Homo sapiens: one gene and its partners. The protein of the gene in region 1 interacts with the protein of each later gene in a biochemical or structural test. Each region holds a gene or a part of one and is shown on either strand. Other genes may lie near its edges. The genes, in order: RAP1GAP, GNAZ and BRAF.

The links.
Region 2: the proteins of RAP1GAP (region 1) and GNAZ form a complex in vitro, tested with the Homo sapiens proteins (one study listed by BioGRID).
Region 3: the proteins of RAP1GAP (region 1) and BRAF form a complex in vitro, tested with the Homo sapiens proteins (one study listed by BioGRID).

The regions. Positions count from the first base shown.
Region 1 is NC_000001.11:21,603,293-21,610,451, reverse strand, and holds part of RAP1GAP (rap1 GTPase-activating protein 1), read left to right. Parts: intron 1-176; coding exon 177-332; intron 333-805; coding exon 806-877; intron 878-1,146; exon of another isoform or gene 1,147-1,341; intron 1,342-1,515; coding exon 1,516-1,602; intron 1,603-2,101; coding exon 2,102-2,239; intron 2,240-4,254; coding exon 4,255-4,386; intron 4,387-6,539; coding exon of another isoform or gene 6,540-6,794; intron 6,795-7,159. UniProt on the Homo sapiens protein: GTPase activator for the nuclear Ras-related regulatory protein RAP-1A (KREV-1), converting it to the putatively inactive GDP-bound state.
Region 2 is NC_000022.11:23,094,519-23,101,518, reverse strand, and holds part of GNAZ (guanine nucleotide-binding protein G(z) subunit alpha), read right to left. Parts: intron 6,273-7,000; 5' UTR 5,824-6,272; coding exon 5,101-5,823; intron 2,908-5,100; coding exon of another isoform or gene 2,707-2,907; exon of another isoform or gene 1-2,706. UniProt on the Homo sapiens protein: Guanine nucleotide-binding proteins (G proteins) are involved as modulators or transducers in various transmembrane signaling systems.
Region 3 is NC_000007.14:140,732,771-140,739,929, reverse strand, and holds part of BRAF (serine/threonine-protein kinase B-raf), read left to right. Parts: coding exon 1-118; intron 119-5,159; coding exon 5,160-5,333; 3' UTR 5,334-7,159. UniProt on the Homo sapiens protein: Protein kinase involved in the transduction of mitogenic signals from the cell membrane to the nucleus. Phosphorylates MAP2K1, and thereby activates the MAP kinase signal transduction pathway. Phosphorylates PFKFB2.

The DNA of each region.
Region 1 (7,159 bases):
CCATTTTTCAACTAAAATAGTTTTAAGACAAGTTTTTTTGCTACATTATTTTGGGGAAAGCAAATCCTTAGATGTGCCCTCTGACTACCCCAAACCCTCCTAAACCCCCGTGGGCACCCCTCTCCCCCATGGGCCCCCTCTGGCCAGACCACGAAGGCCCGTGGCTTTGTGCTCAGTTGCAGCGGAAGCGGCACATCGGGAACGACATCGTGGCTGTGGTCTTCCAGGATGAGAACACTCCTTTCGTGCCCGACATGATCGCGTCCAACTTCCTGCATGCCTACGTCGTGGTGCAGGCTGAGGGCGGGGGCCCTGATGGCCCCCTCTACAAGGTGGGCGCTCTTGGAGCCTCCCAGGGGCATCAGCAAGGGCCCTGGCTGCAGCTCTGCCCTCCCTGGGATGCCCCTCTGAGCCTCACTTTTTCCAGCTATAATGGGGGGACCATGGAAGGCTTCAATGGTGCACTGTTCACACCACGCCCCCTGTCGTCCCCAAAGCTCACCCCCTCAGAGAGGACAGTTTCCCTCCTCTGCCTCCTGGCCTGGTATCACTGTCCTCCACCTCCCGTAGCCTCCTCTGCCTTCACCATCCCGATGATTCCTAAGGCCCCTACCCATCTCCACCACTAAAATTCAGGGCAAAAGATAGAGGGCAGAAATCTCTGGAAGAAAGATTCATCCAGCCCACAGTCACTGGGTCTCCCCGACCAAGGGGCAGTCCAGGGAGGCACAGTAGGGGTTTCTGGCTGGGTGGGGCAGAGCAGACCCCAGGCTCCACAGGAACAGACAGCTGCCCTCCCTTCCAGGTCTCTGTCACTGCAAGAGATGATGTGCCCTTCTTTGGACCCCCCCTCCCGGACCCCGCTGTGTTCAGGAAGGTGAGGGGCACCCCCCCAGTCATGGGCAGAGCAGGACAAATGGGTGGGGGCCTGGGGGGTGCATACACATTCTGCCTTATGAGGTCCCAAAGTCTCATTGTATGCCAGGGCAGCTGGGCTCCCCTAACTGCAACCGGGGCCTGGCTTTTCCATTCATCTTGAAAACACCTTTTTTTTTTTTTTCACAAGGTCACAGGATAAACTACACGATTGTTTTACACTTTCCATAGTAGACTGGCCTCTCCTCATTTCTGTTCTCTTTCTGACAGTTCCAGTCTCTTTCTTTCTTCTAAAATGTTTGGGGAGGGGCACACTTCAAGCCTGGGCTTCAGCTCTGTACGTAGCGTGTTCTGCTACCCTAGACTGAAGCAGTAGGTTGAGACCCCAACCCAGACCCTAACATCTGTGGAGTTTGCTCTCCCGAAGGCGTGGGCAGCCATGAAGGGCACTGGGGCCCCTTGAAGGTACCTGGGGAGCTGAGCCCAGGGAGATACCCTTTTGGGAGTGAAGAGGGTGACCCCAGGCCCCAGCAGAGCATGGTTCAGGAGCTGCAGCCTCTGCCTCGTTGGGGTTCCGACCCTTGTTTATGTGTCATCTCAACTTCCCTTCCTTATCTCCTCCACACTGGGAGTTTCCAGGGGCCTGAGTTCCAGGAATTTTTGCTGACAAAGCTGATCAATGCTGAATATGCCTGCTACAAGGCAGAGAAGTTTGCCAAACTGGAGGTGAGGATGGGCTGTGAGGGCTGGGTGACCCTCTTCTCACCTTCCAACCTATAACTTCAGCCCTGTCCCTGGGAAGGGAAAAGCCATGTTCAGACCTTGGCCTTAGCGGGGACACCTGGGGCTGGATGGATTGATGGACGAGTAGGAGGTCGGGGAGAGGAAGCCGGAGGGATACTGAGGAGTTCCCAGGAGATGCTGGGAGGCGGTTAGGCTGACAGGGACACCTTGGGACCTGTCAGGTGGGGGGGTGGACCTGGGGGGTGGGGACATGAAGCCAGATCTTGAAGGGGCTTTGAGGGGCCCTTCATATGAGGGTCCCTGGGGGATGCTTGAGCTGTGGAGTGGCCTGGGGGAAGGCGGTGCAGGAGCCCTCCGCCCTCCCCACTCCCCACTCATTCAGAGAAGGTGGCCCGTGCCTCAGAAGGTGGCCAGGATTTGAACTGTGGGCCGAAGGGCTGATCCTTGGGGTCCCTCCTGACGGCCCGGGCCTGGCCCACAGGAGCGGACGCGGGCCGCCCTCCTGGAGACGCTCTATGAGGAACTACACATCCACAGCCAGTCCATGATGGGCTTGGGCGGCGACGAGGACAAGATGGAGAATGGCAGTGGGGGCGGCGGCTTCTTTGAGTCTTTCAAGGTGAAGGGCCCCAGGTCTAACTGGCCGGGGAGCAGGGACGTGGCTAGGGCGGAATCCCGGGCTGAGGCTGATAGACTGATGGACACGGCGTGGGGGTGGAGTCTGGCAGAAGGGGCGTGGCTGAGGGGGTGGAGTCCCGGACTGGGGGATTGACACAGCATGGGGAGTGCAGCTAGAGGCCGTTCGCATTGGAGTCTGAGAGGGGGCGTGGCTGGGGCGAAGTCCCGGACTGGGGCTGATTGACATGGTGTGGAGGTGTGGCTAGAGGCCGCTCGCCTGCGGGTAGAGTCTGGGATGGGACGTGGCTGGGGGTGGAGTCAGGGGCCGGGGCTAATGGACATGGCGTGGGGGTGTGGCTAGAGGAGGCTCTAGTCTGGGATGAGGGCGGGGCTCGAAGTGGACTTGGGCTTTAGAATGGGCTTACACTTGGGGACATAGTCTGCCTTGGGTAGAGTTTGAAGGAGCAGCATGTAAGGTGGGGCCCTGGCTTGGGGAGGAGTAACTGTTGGAGGTGGGGCCTAGGTGGGGAATTCACCTGGGAATTCTGCTGAAGGGTGGAGGATTCTGGGAGACAGCAAGGGCTGCTGGTACAAAGGCTGCTAGGTCAGCAGGAAGAGAAGAGAGGAAGAGGCTCTGTCTTGACTGAGGGAAAGAAATAGAGTTCTCAGAAGAGGTGTGTGAACCATGATCATTGGAGAGGGACTTGGCCTGTGTGACCTACCCTGCCTGTCCCTGGTTTAGCTTAGCATTAAGAGCACGGACACTTCAAATTTCAGCTCTGTTACTTACCAGCTTGGGCATTCTGTGAGCATCAGTTTCTTTATCTGTTGAGTAGGGTAATGGCAACTTGCCTCATACAGTTATTGTTATCTGTAAAAGAGTTAGGTTAGTGCAATACAAGTTTAAAAGCAAAATGCAAAACCTTGCCTGTCTGCCTCAGCAAATGTTGTCTGAAATGAGAAGTGTGGGGAGTGGAGTAGTTCCTGGACAGGGTCTGGACTCACTCAGGCCACAGGGCCCCAGGTGGTAGCCTTTTTGCCACCGTCTCCTCCACCCACAGGAGGATAACTGCCCATCCTCCAGCTTCCCGGCCGGCTGGTCACACCTCACCCTCAACCCAGGACAGGTCACACAGCTGGAGCTATGGGTTGGAATAAGGGAATTAGCCCGGCTGCCCAGGCCTGCCCAGGAACTGAGGTGAACAGATCGTCTTTGAGAAAGAGGCTTGGGGACTGGAGACAGGACAGGTGGGGTCAATATGGATCTGGGGTGTCTCCTTTGAGGAGGGCTCCGATGGTCCCACATCTGGTAGGTGCTGGACGGTGGACCTAGATTAGGTCAAAGAATTTCTCAGAAGCAGCGGAGTCCAGAGTTGAGGGCATGGGTCCTGGCATGCCGGGCTCACCCCTGCCTCAGTTGGCATGAAATGGGCATGATTGCTAGTCCCCATCTTGCAGGGGGATCCAGTGATAGAGTGATTGTAAAGCGCTGGTCCCATAGCAAGCATTTGGTGTAGATTGGTCTGAAAAAAACAAGGAAAGAGGGTGGGAGGGAAGAAAAGAAAGAAGGCAGGAGAGCTCTAAGAGGCCCTAACAGGAATGAAACTGAGGTGTCAAGAGGGCTCTCTGTGCACACTTTTGGCCATGACCCAGTGTCTTCTGCAGTCCTTACGCAGCCACATGAGGACACTCAGCACAGAGCAGCCTGTGTGTCCCAGAGAGTGAGAGAACTGAAGTGGTGTCCCCAAGGCCACCCGGCAAGTTGGTGGCAGAGCCAATACCTGAGCTACCCTTAGGCCCCGTATGTACCTGCTTCTCATGTGACGCACAGGGAAATTGAGGCCTGGCCCCACCTCCCTCTGTTGCCCTGCTGGCCACATGCCCAGGGGAAGGGATTTCCAGGGCTTACCCAGAGTGGCATTGCTGGGGAGAGACCAGATGCCTGGGCTCCTGGGTTTCCCCAAGGGGACGGCCCTTAGGAATCCTGTGCCTCCTCCACTGCCACCCCCTTCACAGCGGGTCATCCGGAGCCGCAGCCAGTCCATGGATGCCATGGGGCTGAGCAACAAGAAGCCCAACACCGTGTCCACCAGCCACAGCGGGAGCTTCGCGCCCAACAACCCCGACCTGGCCAAGGCGGCTGGAATAGTGAGTGCCCTCCCCCTCCCCAGGCCCCGGCCCCTCCCTGGGGGGCCCTCAGCTCTCCTCTGCCTCCTGAGGCCTGACTCCAACTCTCTCTGTTGCCCTGCTGCCCACATGCCCATCCTAGGCTCTGGATTTGGTCTAGCCACTACTTTCCATGGGAGGGGGGTGAAGTGCCCAGGCCAGGACACTGCGGTGCTGACAGCTTGCAGCCTGCAGCCCCTTCCCAAGCTCCTTGGCCCTCCCCTCCTCCTGGCCCTTTATGCATTGAGGTGTGACTTCCTGCAGGTCAGCCCTGGGACAGCCTCTGTGTCTCATTCCTTATTGAGTATCTATCTGTTTGCTGGGGACTGGGCTGCTGTGTGGGCACCTACTGTCAAGCCTTGGGTTTCTGGGAGCACCTACTGTGTGTCGGGCTGTGGGCACCCACTGTGTGTCAGGCCCTGGGCTGCTGTGTGGACATGCACTCTGTGAGCATCTACTGTGGGCCTGGCCCTGAGTACCTGTGAGCACCCACTGTGTGTCAGGTCCTGGGCTGCTGTGTGGGCATCAACTCTGTGAGCGCCTACTGTGTGCGCAGCCCTGGGCTGCTGTGTGAGAACCTACTGTGTGTCAGAAAATGGACTGCTATGTGAGCACATCGTGTGTGATAAGCCCTAGATGTCAGTGAACACCTACTGTGTGTCAGGAAGTGAGCTGTTGTGTGGGTACTTTCTCTGTGAGCACCTCCTACTGTGTGTCCGCAGCAGCCAGGGCCTCTGTGGTGTGGCTGCCTATTGTGTGTCGGGAATCTGGCTTCTGTGTGAGCATCTCCAGAGGGAGCACCTCCTGTGTGATCACTGACTGTTGTCCAGGTTCTGGGATTCTGCTGCTCACACTCAGGAGTGCTGGGCACATGGATGAATACGGCCTATGGCTGTGGGCCTCACTGCTGTCCACTGCCTAGTGGCCACCCCAGGACACTGCACCCACTGCTGTGCTCCCCACCCATCCATCCAGCCACCCATCCATCCACCCACCCATCCATCCATCCACCCACCCATCCACCCATCTAGCTATCCACCCACCCACCCATCCACCCACCTACCCATCTACCCATCCACCCACCCACCCACTCATCCATCCACCCACCCATCCACCCACCCATCCACCCATCAATCCATCCATCCACCCACCCATCCACCCATCCATCCATCCATCCATCCATCCATCCATCCATCCATCCATCTCTATCCATCCCTCTATCTCCATCCATCCATCCACCCACCCACCGATCCATCCATCCATCCATCCATCCTTTATTGACTGTCTACTGCATGCCAAGCCCTGCGCTCAGTGCTGTGAGGCTATGTCACGTGGCAGGAGGGAATTCCCCGACCTCTGCTGTCCAGCAGTCACCAAGCACACTGTCATGCGAGGAGCAGGCCCAACCTCCCCCAACCCAGTTTTATCAACCACTCCCTTCCTCTCCACCAGAGTGACCCAGCCTCCTGTGGGTGGCCGAGAGGGGCCCCAGGGACAGGACCAGGCCAGCAGCACCCACCATGGCAGTAACCGGACCCATTTCTGTTTTGTTTTTGCACAACTCTCCCTCTCTCTGTGTTTCCTCCTTTCATTCTACTCTCTCTCCTTGTTTTTTTGTTCCCTCCTCCCTTCCCTTTCCCCGTCCTGTGGCCTCTCTGCCCTTTGGCTCTCTGTTTCTCCTTCCTTCTTGCACCTGTCTTTTTTGCTCCCTCTCCTCCTTCCCTTCTCCGCTCTTCTCACCCTCGCTTTTTCCTTTCGGCCTTCCCCTGGCTTCCTTCTCTGTCTCTGACCCTCCCTGGGCCTGTGTCTGTGTCCTTGCGTCCCTGTCTCTCTGGATTTCCCTCTGTGCCCATCTGGTGTGCCCTCGCTGGCTCACGCGTGTCCCTGTCTCCGGGTAACTGTCTGTCCATCTCTCCCCCGTCTCCCTTGTCCTCTGTCTCTCCTTGTGCTTCTCGCCTTCCTTTCCCCGGCCCTATCTCTCCCATTGCCTCCTGCACCGTTCTCTTCCTTTTTCTGTCTGTCTTCCTCCTTTCCCTGCCTCTCCTCCTCTCTGTGTCTCCCTCCCACCATCTCTCTTGCTCTCTGACTCTCTCTCTGTCTCTCTCTCTCTGCCCCCGCCCTCTGCTGCTTGCCAGTCATTGCTTATTCCTGGGAAAAGTGCGAGTAGATTCGGACGCCGGGGCAGTGCCATAGGCATAGGAACCGTGGAAGAGGTTGTCGTCCGCGGGGCCGCCGGCTCTGGAGGCTGCCTGCACGCGCTGTTCTCTGCTCGCTCTCAGGACGGAGGCCATATTGGGGACGTTGCCCCTCTGCCCCCGGGACAGGCCCCAGGGCGTGCGGGATGGAGTGGCGGCAGCTCCGATGGCACTCAGCACCTGCTTTGGGGCCTGGTACCTGTGCCAGAGCCAGTGCCCCTCACCAGGGGCTTCTGGCCCTGCCTTGGCCCCTGGGACCCTGGCCCAGTCCCTGCCAGGATCCGGTACCCAAAGGCCCTACACCCAGCCGCACGTCCCCCAATATCGCCGGTCTGCATGGAGCGCCATCCCTCTCCTCTGCCCTGACTCCTCCTCCCCGCCACGAAGTGACCTGGGGTCCTACCCCTTCCTGCCTCCAGAGAAGCTGGGGGCGGGCTTCTGGGGCCTGGGGCATCCCAGCACAGTGTGTGGGAAGCTGGGGGAGTCTTCCAGCTGCTGGGCCAGAACCTCCCCCAGCCAATTTGGAGGTTCCGGGGAGGGGCCCTAGCTGGCACGGGGTG
Region 2 (7,000 bases), on another chromosome or scaffold:
ACTGACTAGGCCAGGAGACAAGGGGACGAGGGGAGTGTCAACCTTCACAGCCACTCACCTCTCCCAAGCCCAGGTGTCACTGTCCTCCACTCTCCTGAGGGAAGGCTGGCTACACAGCAGCTCCAAGGGTGGAACCCAGTCTATACCCCCAAGGCCCTTGCTGGAGAACCCCAGCACCCACAGGATGTGGGACCAGTATGGTGAAGAGGGGGGCCACTGGAATTCCCAGGGGCCAGTGCCAGGACCCTCCCTGAGAGCCAGAGTCTCAGCCCTGCGGTATGTGAAGGAACCTCTCTGAGGCTCAGTTTCCTCATCTGCAAAGCCGGCTGGTTAGGAACACTAAAGGATATATAAGGTCCCTTCTCAATCTAAGCCCTGGTATGCTGGGGAGAGGGTATCATCTGTGTCTGGCTATTGCCCATTTGTAATTCCCTCCTTGGGCAAATATAACCAGCTCTGTCATCAATAGGTATAAGCCTGTCTTACTGGAAACACCTTGTTTCACCCACAACACGCCATTTTATGGCACAAATGTTTAAACTCCATTTTAAAAGCACTAAAACAAGCACCCTTTTTGGGCTAAATGATAAACCACAGCGCTAGGGTGGCAGGAACACGCTGTGTTCACAGGACGGCCTTGGGCAGCCCCTCCTCAGGGTACTGCATACACTCCTGTTATGGACGAGCACCCATAGGGTCTCCTTGGGAAGGGCTGAGTGTCCCAGCTGCTCTGCACCCAGAAGCCAGGGCTCTGGAGCTCCAGCTCTTCCCAAGCCTACCGCCTCCCGCCCGCTCCACAAAGTCTGCAGAGCACCCACTGTGTGCCAGGCCCTCTGCTCAGAGCACAGGCTGTGCCGGGTGGGTGTGGACCTGCCCTCGTGGTGTGCTGAGGCTGCTGACCTGCCCTGGAGTGGGGAGGGGTTCCTCAGGAAGCCAATGGCCCCAGGACAAGGGACCACTATCCAGGGCCAGGCATAGACCACCTGCCTGGAGGCTGGCTGCTCAAGCACTTGCCACCTGCAGAACTTGCCCCACAAAAGGCATGTTCTTATGTCCCCCGTCCCCTGGATACCCTCACTGATAACATGTTGACCAGCTGTCTCTCAGATAAGTGGCAGAGACACCAGGCCTCCCACGGTGAACCCTGCTGTGACCCAGCCTGCCTGTGGGGCCCAAGTGACTACTGTGGGTCCTAGATGAAAGCACAATGGGGACACTGCTGGGAACTGCTGCCTGCCAGCTCTAGAAAGACAGGGCAGGTATCCCTGGTAGCAGAGGCTTTGTGGAAATGAAGCTGTAGCTGGGCTGGTGTGACTGCCTCCTCCTTGTCCCCCAGTTCCCTGTGCTGCTGGGAGAGTTGTGCTCACCCTCATACTTGGCCCCAGCCTGAGCCTTGAGCCTGCACAGCAGGTCCATCACAGGTGCAAAACAGACCCGCCACAGGGCTGGGAATGCTGACAGCTCCGTCGGGAAATGGGCAGTGAGCTCCCTGTGGGTTTCCACATGAGAACATTTGATGCTTTACAACTAGACCTTTTAATCTTGCCTTCTGAAGGATCCCACACCATTTGGTGGCCAGCAGAGTCCATTAGCTGATCCGCAAGGGCAGAGGTTGGGCAACAAGTGCCCACCTACCCCCTCAGGTGCCTCCAGTGGGGCCGAGTGAAGACCCAGGCTCTGCTGGTCACAGCCACCTGTGTCTGTCCCTCAGTGTGGGCTGGTAGGTGCCAGCTTCTCCACTTTGCCTTTCCCTCCTAGGGCAGCAGAGTGACTGTCTTTGCTGACTGACCCTTGTGTGAATGTACTAAAGACGAGGGGCAGAGCCTCTGCCATGGCTCTGGCTAAGTGGGAGGCCCGTGGTGGGTCCTGTGACACATGGCCTCTCAGGAGCTGTCCTTGTGGACTTGAGGGCTGGGGGCCCGCCAGCGCCAGCTGTGTGCCTGAGCCTCAGTGCCTCGATCTGTGACAAAAATAACAGGCGCTGCTGCCCCACAGGATCATTCAGGGGACAGGTGCGCCAGAAAAACCCCCTTGTGTTGCTGGGCTGTGTTCAGGCCTCCTGTGCTGCCTGAGGAAGCCCCAGCTGGGTGTTGGGCTTGGGGGCACTGGGGTGCCTGACACACCTGCAGGACTTGGCCCTAGTCAGGGCAAGGGACTGCCAATTCCTTCGGACGAGGGTGGGAACCGTGGCCATGGAGGGGCGTGGCTCCCCATGTGGCTCGCTGCCATGCTCCACAGACACCCGGAAATCTGCCTTCCCTGCTCTGAGGTGCTGCCCTGCACTCACTGCAGCCCTCACACCCGGGAGCCCAGAGACACTGACGTTCTCCTTGGCAACGTGCTGACGCAGAAGCCAGCGGGTGGGCCGGGGGGCTGTGGCTCCTTCGCCAGGCGTGGGGGTGGGGAGGCACTGCCAGCATCAGGGAAGATGAGGCCTTGGAAGCTGAGCACGGAAGGAGGGCTATGGAGGAGCCGTGTCCAGAGCCCTGGCACTGGGCCCCAAGGTTCATTCGGCTTTTGTGAAAACGAGCATGGCCTGTTCTTGGCTGCCTTGCCTTTGACAGGGCCCAGGGAGGACAGTTCAGCACGTTCCAAAAGGAGAGAGCAGAGTGGCAGCCCTGTGCCAGCCCGTGCCAGCACTGGCTCTGGCCCTGGCCCGGCTGGAGACGGGCTGTCCTCACTGCCGGCACCACTCTGGGGGCCAGCTCACCTCCGGGGCCAGCCCAGCCTGCGGGAGGAATCGCGGGAGGGGATTGTCTTTCCTCTGCAGCCTGTTTGTTTTCCATCTCCAGATATTACTGGTAGAGCATGAAAGGTCAGAATCATTTGGAATCCAGTGAATTTCCAGCCTCGCTTGGGTTTCTCATCAAGAATTTCCTTTTCTGGTGAACAACCACTTCCCCAGGCCTGCAGAAACCAGGGTGATGGTGGTGGGTGTGCCAGCCTGGCTGCCAGCCCCTCCCTTTAGAAAGTGCCTTGAATGCCTGGAACCTCACAGGGATCCCTGAGACCAGGCCAGTGGCTGCTGTCCCTGCCCATGGCTGCCCACCATGGCTCTCCCCAGGGACAGGCCTGGGAGAGGGAAAGCTAGAGATGTGAGGCCCCACAGGGGCCACCCAGCCCATCTAGGGCCTGCCCCGAGGAGCTCACTCACACATCACTAGATGGAGGAGTAAGCAGGTGCCGGGCTAGGTCAGAAAAGGCCTCCCAGGAGGCGCCACTTGGGATGAGACCTGGAGGATAAGGGCAGGGGTACGAGAGGCAGGGATCAGGATCATTACAAGCTTAAGGCTGGACAGAGCAGTACTGCTGGAGCAAAACAAGCTGACCACGGCTAGAGCAGAAGGAGAGGAGAGAGAGGCAGCAAGGTGGCAGGCACAGGCCAGTAAGAGCCAAGAGGGCTGCAGGCAGGCAAAGGCCTAGCCTTGGGCCCATCTGTGAAGACACCTGGGTCATCTCCTCACTGACAAGTTCAGAAAGCAAACATGACAGCCAAAGCCCTCCATGAAAAACTGGACTGACTCAGGACCCAGGTATCCTGCCTCCTGTGTCCAGCACACCTGTGGGCACGGCCTGTCAAAGGATGCAACTGGGAGCCAGGCCTGGTGCCCGGGGAATTTGCCACGCCTGCCACTGTGGTGATGGGTGAGGCCAGTGGCGCAAGCCCGTGTGACTGGCAGACCCACCATGGCACTGTCCCAAGGGTCTGGCCTGAGCACCTCACTTTGCCTTGCAGCTTCTCAGCCCCAAGCGCTCTGCCCACGGCCATGCCTCATCAAGGGAGCCTGACCTCACTCATCTGCTGAGATGTCCCCTCTGCCCAGAACCACACATGGGGCTGAACTTGTGGCAACCACAGGGTAAGGGGCCAGAACCCTGGAGAGCACACAGATACACACTGGGAACAGGGTGGACGCAGCCGCCTGCGTACACACCTGCCTGCCCGTCCGTCATTCGTTTCCCCCAGGCACACCATCAACACCTAGGCACAGTTCCAGGGAGACCCCTGATGCGAGGAGGGGAGGGAGGCAAGCCCGCCTCCCCAGCTGCCTGAGGAAAGCCAAAGATCCTCTCTCTCAGAACACTCAGGCTCCTAGCACCATGGCCACTGCCTAGAGCTGTCCAGGTTCCCTGGCTGGGGCACAGGTCCAAAGCTAGAACCATTGTTGCTCTCCGCTGAACCTAAAGAATAAAGCTTGCCTTAGGACTGGGTGAAGCAAGGAGTGACCTCGGAGGCCAGTGCTCCCAAGTGGAGAGGCTGAGCCCTTGTCTCCCAGCATCACCCTCCCCTAGCCCCAGGGTACCCACAACTTCGTGACTCCTTGTTTGCCCCCACTCCCCCATCCCCAGGGTCAAAGGCCTCTCTCTTAAGGGCAGACTTGAAATCTGTGCTCAGGGAATCCTGCTGGGCAAGACAGCCCCTCCCTTGCCTGCCACGGCCTCCACCGCTGCCACTCCTGGCTGTGGCCCCCTTCGTGTGCTAGACCTTCTGTCCTGGCTGGGCCTCAGCACACTGCCCTGCTGCTTCACCCGGCTCCCCACCCTCTCCAGCAACTCCACTCTCAAGCCCCCACCGCTTCACACTGGGTCCAGGTCTCCCTCGGGCTGCGCCCATGCCACTGTGAAAGAATCCCAACACCTGCTTTTACGTCGTCCCCTTTCCACCAGGACCTGGGATTATCCCTTCTAAACAGCTCTTAACCCCATCTCTGCCAGATTTGCAGACTCAAGATGGGGTTGCAGGGGTGGCTGCTGTTCCTGGACCTATATGCTGGTAGGAGACTGGTGCTGGCAGGAGCTTCATGGATTTGCCAAACTATCACATGGATTGATCATGGATGCCCGGCGGAGCCTCACACTCTCTTGCCCTGTGGCCTCCACACCCTGAGTACTTCAGGCATGGGACATGACACCTGCACTCCACACCCTGTTCCCTCTGCCCCCACCTTGCTGGAGCTGCCTCAGTTATCGTGCAGCAGGGCCAGGCCTGCGCCTGGTTCCCTTTCTGGCTGCAGACTGTCCTGGACCTCACGAGTCCTCTTGCTTCCAGGAACCCACGACAGCAGGAACAAGCAGAGGAAAACCCCCGGCCCCACTTACTGTCTGGTTATCCTCGTAGAGTTTCAGGTCGTAGCCGCTGAGCTCCACACAGAAGATGATGGCTGTGACGCCCTCGAAGCAGTGGATCCACTTTTTGCGCTCTGACCTCTGCCCCCCCACGTCCACCATCTTGAAGGTGAGCTCCTTGAAGGTGAACTTGTTCTCCACAATGCCCGTGGTCATGTCCCGGGAGCGCAGGATGTCCTCGACAGTGGGGATATAGTCAGCTGCGGCGATGCGCTCCAGGTCGTTCAGGTAGTAGGCCGCGTTGTCCTCCAGGTGGTACTCGCTGGAGCGGCTGAAGCAGGCCTGTGCCCCTGGGTCGGCCCAGAGCCGTCGCATGACACCCAGCAGCTCGGGTGTGATCTCGCCCTTGCTCTCAGCGGGGCCCGTCAGCGCAAAGAGCTGCACAGCGTCGTAGGCGCGGTCGGGGTTGTGGAAGTCGATCCTGAGGGCGGCCAGGGCCCGGATGATGCGGGTCAGCGAGTCGATGGCATTGTAGATGATGAGGGGCTTGTACTCCTTGCAGGCCTCCAGGTTGAAGCCGCCGCTGTGGATGATCTTCATCTGTTTGACGATGGTGCTCTTGCCTGAGTTGCTGGTGCCCAGCAGGAGCAGCTTGATTTCGCGGCGTTGCCGCTGGCTCTCTGAGCGCAGGTGGCGGTCAATTCTCCGGGACCGCCGGGCTGCTTCTTTTTCCTCTGAGCTTTGCCGACATCCCATGGTCTGGCAGCAGCGGGCCCAGACAAGGAGCACGGGATGGGGCACCTCTCCCTCTTGCCACAGGGGACACTGAGACCAGGCAGACAAGAGCCCAGCTGCCCTGGAGGCACTCAGTGCCAGCAGGGGGGTGAGGCCGAGCCACACTGCAGCCCCTGCCCCAGCGCCTCTTCTCCAGCCGGCATGGCGCTCTGTGCAGCGGGCGGTGGCCGCCCCTCCCCACTAGTGACACTCCACCTCCCTAGTTGGCAAAGTGGCCTGATTTGCCGTAGTCATTCCCTGTCCTCGGCGACGGTGGGAAGCCGTCCGCTTGTGTTTGCCTCGGCTGCTGCCGTCTGGTTGCTGGTTGCTGTGGCGATGTTGCTGAGTGGCTGGAGGGTTGGAGGGCCGGTCGCTGGTGTGCTCCCTGCAGCCCCCCGCCTCCGGCTCCCACTGTGCATCCAGCCCTTCACCTGCCAAACACAGAGAAAAGCGTGAGCCTCCTCCCCGCAGCCCCACCTCAGGCTGGACAGTGAAAGGGAGCTCTTCTGAAAGCAAAGCAGCAGAGACTGGCCTTGGAAAATGAGCCGGCAACAATCCATCCAACCCCCTCTCCTCCATGGGGCGCTGTAGGGCCCACACCATGGTGTAACACATATGTCTGCTGTTGCCTGGACAGTCCACCTGAAGCCAGGTGCATGAGGGAGAGGAGGGTGTGTGCGAGGCCTCTGCCCACCCAGCCCCCATGCTGGACTCACTTCTACCGCATCCAGTTAGGATTCAATAAGGTCACCCTGTTGTGATGCCCCCTGGGGCCCTTCTCCCAGACAGCACTGATAGAGCTCAGCCTTGCCCTGTTTTACACGGGTGGCCAGGCCTCGGCCCAGCCCTGGGATAACTGAGCGCCTCCCTGACTCTCATTACCCCCGCAGGAGCTGGGTCACTTCTGATCACAGGGAGGAAAAGCACCAGGAGGGAGACCTGGCCCCTGCTTTCCCTTGAGGGCACTCTGATGGGCCAGCCCAGGAGCCAGCAGATAGGCAGGGACCAGAGCAAGGTGGAGGCTTCAGGCTGTGGGAGCACCGTGAGGTGCCTAAGCACAGTGGGCAGGGGCTGCCTCACTCCTGCAGAAGGAGGTAGAGGGGGGCTTGGGCTGAGACCAAGGAGCTGGGGGCTGCACGTGGTGCTGCGGGGAAATCCA
Region 3 (7,159 bases), on another chromosome or scaffold:
ACGAGGATACCTGTCTCCAGATCTCAGTAAGGTACGGAGTAACTGTCCAAAAGCCATGAAGAGATTAATGGCAGAGTGCCTCAAAAAGAAAAGAGATGAGAGACCACTCTTTCCCCAAGTAAGTAAAAGCTTCATGCTATCCAAAAGAACAGACTAACATTCATAGACAGATTTCTGAGCACTTTTTTGGGCACACAGTGTGTATTTCATGAGTTTGGATTCTATGTGCAGACTCCAGACAAGAAAACACATTAAGATGGCTTCATGAGGGTTGAGCAGTGGCACACCTAGAAATTTTGGGTCCTAATACAAAATATTCAGAAAGACTTTGCATTTGTCCATCAGTTCTCAGACTTCTCAGTCTTTGAACTCTTTTACACATTTAAAAATTATCGAAGACCCCCCCCCCCACAAAGAGCTTTTGTTTATATAAGTTTTAATTCCTTATTAGAAATTAAAACTATTTTTTAAAATATTAATGAATTAAACATAGTAAACCAATATGTTAAATAATATTTAGAAAAAAACAGTTCTATTATCTAAGAGAAAAAAATTAGTGAGGAGTTGTATTGTTTTACTTTTTTTGCAAATCCCTTTGCAAAAAGAAGACAGCTGGATTCTCCGCTTTTGCACTCACATTGCAATATCTCACATCATGTCACCCCTAAAAACTCTACTTAACGCTTGTAAAATAATGACAGTAAAAAAGGCAAATGATATCTTATTGTTATTACAAAAATAGTTTTGACCTCGTGGATCCCCTGGTGGTCCACGGACCACATTTTGTGAACCACTGCTTTATTTCTTCTTGGTGGTAAACAGATTCAAGCTTTCCTTTAATACTGGGTCTTTTTGAGGGGCATTTCTGCCTGATGCAGAAAAAGGAAAAGGCAGTAAGGCATTTGTCAGCTCAGCCTGCCTTTACCTAATTCTTGATAACTCACTGCTTTTTTTTTTTTTTTTCCATATTGGAAGGATAAAGCCTTAAGTTAACAAATTTCAAAAAGAACTGTAACTAAGGCCAGGTGTCGTGGCTTACAAATCTCAACACTTTGGGAGGCCAAGGCAGGCAGATCAGTTGAGGTCAGGAGTTCGAGACCAGCCTGGCCAACATGGTGAAAACCGTCTCTACTAAAAATACAAAAATTAGCTGGGCATAGTGGCAGGAGCCTGTAATCCCAGCCACTCAGGAGGCTGAGACATGAGAATCGCTTGAACCCAGGAGGTGGAGATTGTAATGAGCTGAGATGACACCACTGCATTCCAGCCAGGGCAACAGAATGAGACTCTGTTTAAAACAAAACAAAACAAAAATATCTAAATACCTCAACTAGCTTACAGAGTTTAGCTGTAGTAGATATTATAATATAAATGCAATGTTTTCTGATACTTAGGGAGCTCCTGATAGCACTGGATAAATATGCCTTGATGAATCAGTACAGTTTCAAGTGGGAAGTGCTATTTCCCATAGTAACCCTGCTACCATAATTACTGGAGTGTTCATGTATGAACTCTTAGGCCTTTGAATGCCCAGTCCTAGCTGAGTAACTCAGACAGAAGTCAATGTTACAGGAATTAGATTCACTCATCCTTTATTTTTAAATCTAAAAAATGTTATTCTTCTCTAAAGAATGAAAGAAGATAAAATTGATGGTTTTAACAAGTCTGTCAGGGTGTTGCCTAAGAAAAGAAAGGGAAAGCTAAGTGGTTGGCTGGGTAGATATAAGTTTCATTTATCAGGTTTCAAAGTTACTGTTCCTTTGAGGAAGAGTTTTTATTTTTTCTTTTTATTTTTTTATTTGTTTCTCTAAGTCAGGAAACCTCTGGGTTGAGACTGTCCTGGTGAGAGACAAGTGCTGCTGAGCAGCTTCAGCATGACCCTGTCCCATGTTCTCTTTTCACGTCATGGTGCTCGGGTTCTTACTTAGAATGTTTATTGACATTAATAATGCAAAGTACATCCTTAGGCCCACTTTTTAAATGATATTAAAAGGGGCAAAATGCTTAGCTCCATACTTCTAAATATAACATTTCATTAATTACATGGTTTCAAAAACTGAAGTGCATATGTGAACTTTCCAGATTATTGGAGGCTATCCCTTTAAAGTGTTATTTTGAAATTTTTGTTACAGGATATCTTTTCACACCATACTGTTATATGCCACATAAATTTTAGATGGCTGAAGATCTATATGTTTTATAAAATATGAAATCATTTTTATAGTTTTGAGGTAGGAAAGGCTTTCTTAATAGACAAAATTCAGAAGGAAAAAATTAGCAGATGTGAGTACATTAAAAATTTTTAAACTTCTATATAGAAAAATAACATTGAAAGATAAAAAGAATAATTGTAGCATATATAACAAAAAGTAAATGTTTATAATATACAAAGGACTCCTCCAAATCAATAAGTAACAAACAATAGAAAATGGGCAAAGGGAATATGAACAGGTGATTCACATAATAAATACAAATGGTGAATGAACTTAGGAAAAGGTGTAAATATTTCCATGGCAGTCAGTAAAATGCAAAGACACAACAGTGAAATATATTTTAATTTCGCCTCTCAGGTTGGTAATATCCAGCACTGGGAACAATGTTGGGAAGTGAGGAGGAGCATTCTATGTAAAATTTTAAAGGTTTGGTGGAAGGCAGCATTTTGGAAGACCTTGGTAGAATCCATAAATTCAAAATACTTCTAAAAATCTGTGCTATGTAACCTATTTCATAAGTATTCAGATATATATAAGAATGTTTACTATAATAAGAAAAAGACATTAAGATTAAGTTAGTTTTGTATTGATGACATGGATATTGGTGAGAGAAAAAGAAAACAAGACAGAAAACAAAATGTAGTATGATACCTCATTTTTTTTTTTTATAGGCTGGGCCTGTTCTGTTGCCCAGGCTGGAGTGCAGTAATATGATCATAGCCCACTGCAGCCTCAAACTCCTGGGCTCAAGCGATCCTCTCACCTCAGCCTCCTAAGTAGCTGGGATTGCAGGTGCCTATCACCACACCCAGCTAATTTCTTGTGGTGGTGGTGGTGGTGGTTGTAGAGATAGATTCTCACTATGTTGCCCTGGCTGGTCTTGAACTCCTGGCCTCAAGCGATCCTCTCGCCTCAGCCTCCCAAAGTGCTGGGATTACAGGCGTGAGCCCCAGTGCCCAGCCTGATAACCACTTTAAAAGGTTAAACAGAGGCCAGGCACGGTGGCTCACGCCTGTAATCCCAGCACTTTGGGAGGCCGAGGCAGGCGGATCACCTGAGGTTGGGAGTTCGAAACCAGCCTGACCAACATGGAGAAACTCTGACTCTACTAAGAATACAAAATTAGCCAGGCGTGGTGGCACATGCCTGTAATCCCAGCTACTCGGGAGGCTGAGGCAGGAAAATCATTTGAACCCAGGAGGCGGAGGTTGCGGTGAGCCGAGATCGCACCATTGCACTCCAGCCTGGGCAACAAGAGTGAAATTCCATCTCCAAAAAAAAAAAGTGGTGTTCAGGTGGGCCTTGTTTTCATGTATGTATTTTTATACATAAAAAAAGGTACTGAAGAGGCCAGGCGCAGTGACTCACACCTGTAATCCCAGCACTTTGGGAGGCCAAGGTGGGTGGATCAGTTGAGGTTAGGAGTTCGAGACCAGCCTGGGCAAAATGGTGATACCCGTCTCTACTAAAAATACAAAATTATCCGGGCGTGGTGGCACACGCCTGTGATCCCAGCTACTCGGGAGGCTGAGGCAGGAGAATCGCTTGAACCTGGGAGGCGGAGGTTGCAGTGAGCTGAGATCGCGCCACTGCACTCCAGCCTGGACAATAGAGTGAGACTCCATCTCAAAAAAAAAAAAAAAAGGTACAGAAGAAAGTATAGACTCTAACAGTGGTTATCCCTGGAGAGCAGGATTTGAGAGCCTTATACTCTTTATACATTTCTATAGTATTTTAATTTTTATTTGCATGTTATACTTGGAATTTACAATTTTTTGCAACTGCTTACTTCTTTGTCTTATACTAATCATCATAAAGATTACTTTTTAAAAAAAATTTAACTTTTAAAAACAATTTTCAGCCAGGCATGGTGGCTCATGTCTGTAATCCCAGCCCTTTGGGAGGCCGAGGCAGGCAGATCACCTGAGGTCAGGAGTTTGAGACCAGCCTGGCCAACGTGGTGAAACCCTGTCTCTGCTAAAAATACAAAAATTTAGCTGGGCATGGTGGTGCGCTCCTGTAATCCCAGCTACTCAGGAGGCTGAGGCAGGAGAATCGCTTGAACCCAGGAGGGGGAGGTTGCAGTGAGCTGAGATTGTGCCACTGCACTCCAGCCTGGTTGACAACAGCGAGACTCCGTTTCAAAAAAAAAAAAAAATTGGTATCTCAGGACAATAACAAAAGTAATAATAATAGCTGCTAAGGTTTTATTGAGTGCTTATTATAGGCCAGGCATTATGCCAAGCCCTTTAAACATGTTTCATGATTATGAACATGCATTATCATGCTGTATGCCTTCAAGGATTATAACCTGTTTCTTTGTGCCTTAAAATTGTGAATTTCTGCATTTTATATATTGGGGTCTATTTGTCGAGTTCTCCTATCTTTGCTCTTGGGTTGTCCCCTGTCACTTCTCATGTGCTACTAGCACTCTGGGTCTGTGAGGTTCTGCTTTCAATTAGGTGTATGTAAAACATTTCCCATGGCTAGGTTTCTTTAAAGGGCAAGTAGCTGTGATAATTCTGTTTAGAGATAGTCATAAAGTGCTTTACTTATTTATACTCCATCTTCTTCCCAAAAGAGACTTGTGGTCTATAACAAAAAGGTATAAAATTGGTTTTAAATTTCTATTATTTACTGTTTCAAGACTAACAAATGATCTAAAATATAAATAAAAGCTGACTAAGAATTACTCTCCCCATTTAATTTACAGAGAGAGTTTCTTCTTAAGAAAAAATACCAATTATTTACAAATATTTTCCCAAGCATTTATGACAATGCTGAAAACAATGTAAGATTTCAGGTGCTTTCTTGTAAAGTGTGATGGGACTCTTAAAGATTTATACCACCCAGATTTTCATTCTTCTTTCTGTTTTTTCTTTTTCTTTCTTTCTTTTTTTTTCTTTTTTCTTTTTTTTTCTTTTTTTTTTCTTTTTTTTTTTGTAGATTCTCGCCTCTATTGAGCTGCTGGCCCGCTCATTGCCAAAAATTCACCGCAGTGCATCAGAACCCTCCTTGAATCGGGCTGGTTTCCAAACAGAGGATTTTAGTCTATATGCTTGTGCTTCTCCAAAAACACCCATCCAGGCAGGGGGATATGGTGCGTTTCCTGTCCACTGAAACAAATGAGTGAGAGAGTTCAGGAGAGTAGCAACAAAAGGAAAATAAATGAACATATGTTTGCTTATATGTTAAATTGAATAAAATACTCTCTTTTTTTTTAAGGTGAACCAAAGAACACTTGTGTGGTTAAAGACTAGATATAATTTTTCCCCAAACTAAAATTTATACTTAACATTGGATTTTTAACATCCAAGGGTTAAAATACATAGACATTGCTAAAAATTGGCAGAGCCTCTTCTAGAGGCTTTACTTTCTGTTCCGGGTTTGTATCATTCACTTGGTTATTTTAAGTAGTAAACTTCAGTTTCTCATGCAACTTTTGTTGCCAGCTATCACATGTCCACTAGGGACTCCAGAAGAAGACCCTACCTATGCCTGTGTTTGCAGGTGAGAAGTTGGCAGTCGGTTAGCCTGGGTTAGATAAGGCAAACTGAACAGATCTAATTTAGGAAGTCAGTAGAATTTAATAATTCTATTATTATTCTTAATAATTTTTCTATAACTATTTCTTTTTATAACAATTTGGAAAATGTGGATGTCTTTTATTTCCTTGAAGCAATAAACTAAGTTTCTTTTTATAAATTTTGAGTGCAGGTGACCAAAAATATTGCTGAGGAGTGGCACGTTTGACATGAGTAAAATGTCTTAACTTCGGATTTTTAGCGGGAAAATGTTATAAATTGGAGTTTCTTTTAAATAGCTTTTTTTAAAATACATTAAGGATGTCTCGCTCATGTAGAAGTCAAATTTTGTTGCAAACGCATTGCTCCCTTCACACCCAATCTCTCCCCTGCAAAAAATCTTCACAGAATTCTGTGAGAACTTTTAGGTGTGTTTTTCTTTGAGATACCTCTGGTTGCCAAACACCAGGTAATAGATTTTTTAAAGTTGTTATTAGATTATTCTTACCTCTCATGATGCATATTTTAGCAATCACCTTATCATTGTGTCTCATGTTCTGTCCTCCTTATATTCTTTGCCCAGCAAGATTCTACTTATGATGAATGAATGCTCTTCTCCTTTTTTCATTCAATGGTATGAAGTATTTGTTAGGGTTCTTTAGTACTTACACTTTGTTGTGTAGAAAATGACTGTAATGTGGTGGTCAGTGTATTCTTACTGTGATTCAGAGGGAATCAAAAGTAGAAAGCAACAGCACGTGGTCCTATCAAAGATTTGGCCATCTCTGCTTCACTGTCAGCCTCTTAACTATATCTTCACTTACTCAATTTGGTTTTGTCATGATTTTTAAATGTAGCCAATAGATCAAGGTTCTTCCAGTAAACACATATCTGCATAAATGCCTCCTTGAAGTCAATAAAGAAGGAAATTGAGAAGACTTTAAATTAATGATAATTTAGTTTTTAAGTACCCACAAATAAATTTTTGAAACATTTTCTTTATTTGAATACTTAGATGTCATCCAGGAAAATCACTCAATAATAATTACGGCAAATCTTTAACCCCTCATTTGGGTAGCTTAAGATAAGTAATGCCATTATGAATCAGAATTGATTCATGACTTTAGTTAAGAAAATGAAAAGGAACATTTCACGTATTTTTAAAAATGATACTAAGGAATAAAGAAGTACAACTATTGGAAAATATCTAAGTATATGATTTTTAAATCCTCCAGTGGCATTAAATATATGATTATTAGTAATTGTTAGATAGGGTTTTATTCATTCACAAATAGAAGACTAGCAAGCATGTAACTAACAAAGTTTTTACAAAATTGACTTTGTGGAATGCTCCAAATGTTTGGCCATTTTGAGGCACAAGGTCAGGGGTCTCTTTATTGATAGAGCTCCTTCTATAATTTC